Linked DNA regions of Homo sapiens: region 1 is linked to region 2. Evidence: fine-mapped expression QTL. A gene starts in region 2. The other region holds a variant in brackets. All regions are shown on one strand. Distances are from middle to middle.

Region 1 (2,800 bases), 57 kb after region 2:
CCTCCTAAAGTGCTGGGATACAGGCATAAGCCACCATGCCCAGCCTGTTTCCTGACTTTTTAATGATTTCCATTCTAACTGGCATGAGATGGTATCCCATTGTGGTTTTGATTTGCATTTCTCTAATTACCAGTGAAGATGAGCTGTTTTTTTTCATATGTTTGTTGGCCGCATAAATGTCATCTTTTGAGAAGTGTCTGTTAATGTCCTTTGCCCGCTTTTTGATGGGGTTGTTTTTTTTTCTTGTAAATTTGTTTAAGTTCCTTGTAGACTCTGGATATTAGCCTTTTGTCAGATGGATAGATTCCAAAAATTTTCTCCCATTTTGTATGTTGCCTGTTCACTCTGATAGTTTCTTTTGCTGTGCAGAAGCTCTTTAGTTTAATTAGATCCCGTTTGTCAATTTTGGCCCTAGTTGCCATTGCTTTTGGTGTTTTAGTCATGAAGTCTTTGCGCATGCAAAGGGATATGTCCTGAATGGTATTGCCTAGGTTTTCTTACAGTGTTGTCATGGTTTTAGGTCTTACATTCAAGTCTTTAATCCATCTTGAGTTAATTTTTGTATAAGGTGTAGGGAAGGGGTCCAGTTTCTGTTTTCTGCATATGGCTAGCCAGTTTTCCCAACAACATTTATTAAATAGGGAATCCTTTCCCCATTGCTTGTTTTTGTCAGGTTTGTCGAAGATCAGTTGGTTGTAGTAGATGTGTGGCGTTATTTCTGGGGCCTCTGTTCTGTTCCATTGGTCTATATATCTGTGTTGGTACCAGTACTATGCTGTTTTCATTACTGTAGCCTTGTAGTATAGTTTGAGGTCAGGTAGCATGATACCTCCAGCTTTGTTCTTTTTGCTTTCGATTGTCTTGGCTGTATGGGCTCTCTTTTGGTTCCATATGAAATTTAGTTTTTTCTAATTCTGCGAAGAAAGTCAATGGTAGCTTGATGGGGATAGGATTGAATCTATAAATTAATTTGGGCAGTATGGCCATTTTCATGATATTGATTCTTCCTTTCCATGAGCATGGTATGTTTTTCCATTTGTTTGTGTCCTCTCCTATTTCGTTGAGCAGTGGTTTGTAGTTCTCCTTGAAGACATCCTTCACATCCCTTGTAAGTTGGATTCCTAGGTATTTTATTGTCTTTGAAGCAATTGTGAATGGGAGTTCACTCATGATTTGGCTCTCTGTTTGTCTGTTATTGGTGTATAGGAATGCTTGTGATTTTTGCACATTGATTTTGTATCCTGAGACTTTGCTGAAGTTGCTTATCAGCTTAAGGAGATTTTGGGCTGAGACAATGGGGTTTTCTAAATATACAATCATGTCATCTGCAAACAGGGACAACTTGACTTCCTCTTTTCCTAATTGAATACCCTTTATTGCTTTCTCTTACCTGATTGCCCTGGCCAGAACTTCCAATACTATGTTGAATAGGAGTGGTGAGAGAGGGCATCCTTATCTTGTGCTGGTTTTCAAAGGGAATGTTTCCAGTTTTTGCCCATTCAATATGATACTGGCTGTGGGTTTGTCATAAATAGCTCTTGTTATTTTGAGATACATTCCATCAATACCTAGTTTATTGAGAGTTTTTAGCATGAAGGGGTGTTGAATTTTATCAAAGGCCTTTTCTACATCGTGGTTTTTGGCATTGGTTCTGTTTATGTGATGGATTGCATTTATTGATTTGCATATGTTGAACTAGCCTTGCATCCCAGGGATGAAGCTGACTTGATCATGGTGGATAAGCTTTTTGGTGTGCTGCTGGATTCAGTTTGCCAGTATTTTGTTGAGGATTTTTGC[A/G]TTGATGTTCATCAGGGATATTGGTCTAAAATTTTCTTTTTTTGTTGTGTCTCTGCCAGGTTTTGGTATCAGGATGATGCTGGCCTCATAAAATGAGTTAGGGAGGGGTCCCTCTTTTTCTTTTGTTTGGAATAGTTTCCGAAGGAATGATACCAGCTTCTTTTTGTAGCTCTGGTAGAATTCGGCTGTGAATCTATGTGGTCCTGGGCTTTTCTTGGTTGGTAGGCTGTTAATTACTGCCTCAATTTCAGAATTTGTTATTGGCCTATTCAGGGATTCGACTTCTTCCTTGTTTAGTCTTGGGAGGGTGTAGGTGTCCAGAAATTTATTCATTTCTTCTAGATTTTCTAGTTTATTTGCATAGAGGTGTTTATAGTATTCTCTGATGGTAGTTTGTATTTCTGTGGGATTGGTGGTGATATCCCCTTTATCATTTTTTATTGCATCTATTTGATTCTTTTCTCTTTTCTTCTTTGTTAGTCTAGCTAGCACTCCATCTGTTTTGTTAATCTTTTCAAAAAACCAGCTCCTGGATTCATTGATTTTTTTTGTAGGGTTTTTCATGTCTCTAACTCCTTCAGTTCTGCTGTGATCTTAGTTATTTCTTGTCTTCTGCTAGCTTTTGAATTTGTTTGCTCTTGCTTCTCTAGTTCTTTTAATTGTGATGTTAGGGTGTTGATTTTAGATCTTTCCTGCTTTCTCCTGTGGGTATTTAGTGCTATAAATTTCCCTTTAAACACTGCTTTAGCTGTGTCCCAGAGATTCTGGTACATTGTGTCTTTGTTCTCATTGGTTTCAAAGAACTTATTTATTTCTGCCTTAATTTCGTTATGTACCTAGTAGTCATTCAGGAGCAGGTTGTTCAGTTTTCGTGTAGTTGTGCAGTTTTAAGTGAGTTTCTTAATTTTGAGTTCTAATTTGATTGCACTCTGGTCTGAGAGACTGTTATGATTTCCTTTCTTTTGTATTTGCTGAAGAGTGTTTTACTTCCAATTATGTGGTC
Region 2 (2,800 bases):
CTAAATGCATGTCAGCAAAGGACTAACCTTAACGTGTAAAGTGCTGTTGAAAATCAACGAAAGAATAGAAAACTGCGTAGGACCTGAACAGGCAATTCACAGAAAAAAGCTGAAAAACATTGTGAAAGATTCTTAACATCATTTGTAATTAAATTCAAGTTGAAATAATAATAAGATAAATTTTCATCTCAGGTTGGCAAAGATCACTTTTCACAGCGGGGTAGTGAAACAGACATCTTATTTGTTGATGCTGAGTGTTAATTGGTAAAAACTTTTGGAAGGCAATTTAGTATTATCTGCCAAATTTTAAAACTATTTATCTATATCCAGCTCCTCTGATCCAGCAGTTCTACATAAACCCTCTCCTGAAAAAGCGTACCAACAGATACTTATTATATCAAAAGATAAGAATGCCCATCGATTAGTGACCAATTAAAATACTTTCATACAATGGCATATATATATGAAAAAGAATGTTAAATACCCTTTTACAGTAAAATATGTATCAAATGCCTATTATGTGCCAGGGACTGTTCTAGATACTGGGATGTAGTTGTAAACCAAACGAACTGAAATCCCTGCCCCTCATGGAGCTCACATTCCAATGAAGGGATACAAGGTAACAGCAAGATGCAGAAAAGAGTAAATAGCATATTAACTAGTATTATAAAGAAGAGGACGTAGAGACAGGCAAACACACAAATATACATGTTTGCCTATGCACAGAAAAGCTCTGGCAGGTAATAAATGGAACTGTTTTGCCCCTGGGGAGGAAGACCGCAGGTCTAGGGAGGGAGTCGTAGTTTCCGGCGAAAATATTTGTTTACTACATATGCATATTAATTAAAATGGGGGGGAGGCGGATAACACGATTTTATATTTAAAAAAATTGCTGGTAAAGTCCTTGGAGCATCAGCAACTCAACCGTTTTCATTGCAATGTTCGAAGCAACGCTGGATTGCAGGGTCTTCGCCGCTTACACCCTGCAAATCACTGTGGGACGAGAATCGAGGGCTGGTCTAGGGCAGGCAGTAGACAAATGAGTTAAGAGAGTGCTCTCGAGAGCACTCCGAGGCAAAGCACAAACCAAAGATACATAATACTTGCATAAATGCCGACACACAGAGAGAAAAAACTAGGCGCTGTGAGAGCAAGTTCACAAGGTGGCGCAGAACCACATTTCCCCAAAGTAACAGCGAACAGGTCTAGTCTGCAGCTCTGCGCCTGCGTCAAACGGCAGCGCATTTGACCACACGGCCGCCGGAGGCACAGTCGTGTTCGCATCTGGTCTAACAGACCCGCGAGAACGAAGGACGCTTGCCTTTTTCCGGTCGGGGAAGGGGGAAGAAGGTAACTTCCGGTGACGGGGTTGCATCACTTCCTCTCAAGCTTGGCGTTTGTTTGGTGGGGTTACACGCGGGTTCAACATGCGTATCGAAAAGTGTTATTTCTGTTCGGGGCCCATCTATCCTGGACACGGCATGATGTTCGTCCGCAACGATTGCAAGGTAAGGCGGTCGACACCAGTTCTTGCTTCAGCCTAGCTCCCGCGGTTCCTGGGCGCGGCGGCTCGGTGCTGGGTGCTTCTGCGTCTGCCGTGTTTGGCCCGGGTTCCTCCCGTTGTTCCCCTGGGAGGGTGGCTTAACTGGGCCTCCGTTCTCAACGTTCCGCTTCGGGGGTTTCTCCTTGCCCGTCTTCCGAGCGGCGCTGGCCACCACGCCACCCTTGGGTGGCGTTGGCAGCGAGGAACTTCAGGAGCGATCCCAGCTAGCGCCTACCAGGAATCTTGGATGTCTGTGAGGGCTGTTTGGCCACTCATGTACTTGGGCCAAATTCTTGAATCCAGTAAACTTTGTTGAGTGTATACCCTGTCAGGCATTACACTAAGGTCCATACTAAAGTGTAGAGGTTGATGGAAGTGTTCCGTATTGCTTAATGGTAGAGTTATGTATTAAGTTACTGCAGGTGAGTTGGGGAGGGTCCTGTACGGAAAGACTCAGCATAGAGGTGATATTTATCTTGGATCCTGAATTTTGCGGAAGAAAGCGGAGGGGGCCTTCTAAGTGGAAGGAAAGTGAACATTTTGAGAAAAGGCAGAGAACGGAGCAAATACATTTGTTTGAGGAAGTGACTGGATTGTAAATGATGATAGAGCCTTGGGCGTAGGGCTACAAGTATAATAAGTCTGTAAACGTAAATAATAAATATGAGTCCTAGTTGTGAAAGACGTTTTGAATGGTACATGAATTTGTCCTGTCATTACAGAATGAATCCCGTTCCTCTCTTTCTCAGAGAAACACATTGTTTCTCAGAATTTGATCTCTTACGTTTGCTTCTGAATTACTGGGCGTTTACAGATTCCTGGTTTTCACCAGATCTATTGAGTTGGAATCTTTGGGGGAGGGGAAGAGGGTCTAAGAATCTGTATATTAAGGTGAATTTGACGTGCTAAATAATTACAAGTCTGACTTCTTCACCTTATATCTCTGTAACAGATCAAAGATATTGACCTCATTAATTAGATCCAAGGGATTCAGCTGAAAGTGACGGACCAAAGCCATGTTTGATAACGTAAAAGAACCTAGAAGATTTTGAATACTTGCTCTCAGGAACATGATAAGAAGTTTATAAAAATGAACCAAAAGATTGCCAGGTTGGGGTCTAATTCAGAGTAGGCAGTATGGTTTTATACATGATGTCGTTACGATTTTGTGATTTTCGTCCAGGATGCTTGTCGGCTGGATATTGGAATTAGAACAACAGATCGTGAGAACTGTCAAGACCTGGGTATTGATTTGGT

The links. PIP is the estimated chance that this variant, and not a neighbour inherited with it, causes the effect.
Region 1: its variant is the best candidate, but not a certain one, in a credible set for the expression of RSL24D1 in whole blood (INTERVAL, PIP 0.68).

Annotation. Positions count from the first base shown.
Region 1 is chr15:55,138,253-55,141,052 of GRCh38, reverse strand. No RefSeq gene overlaps it. Among named protein-coding and RNA genes, the nearest start is that of RSL24D1, 57 kb to the left of the region's middle. The variant A/G (reference allele first, on the strand shown) is at 1,798.
Region 2 is chr15:55,195,518-55,198,317 of GRCh38, reverse strand. It overlaps RSL24D1 (ribosomal L24 domain containing 1), which reads left to right and starts at 1,377. Exons shown (of 6, transcript NM_016304.3): 1 at 1,377-1,508. The coding sequence starts at 1,428. RefSeq lists enhancers at 1,413-1,572, 1,366-2,257.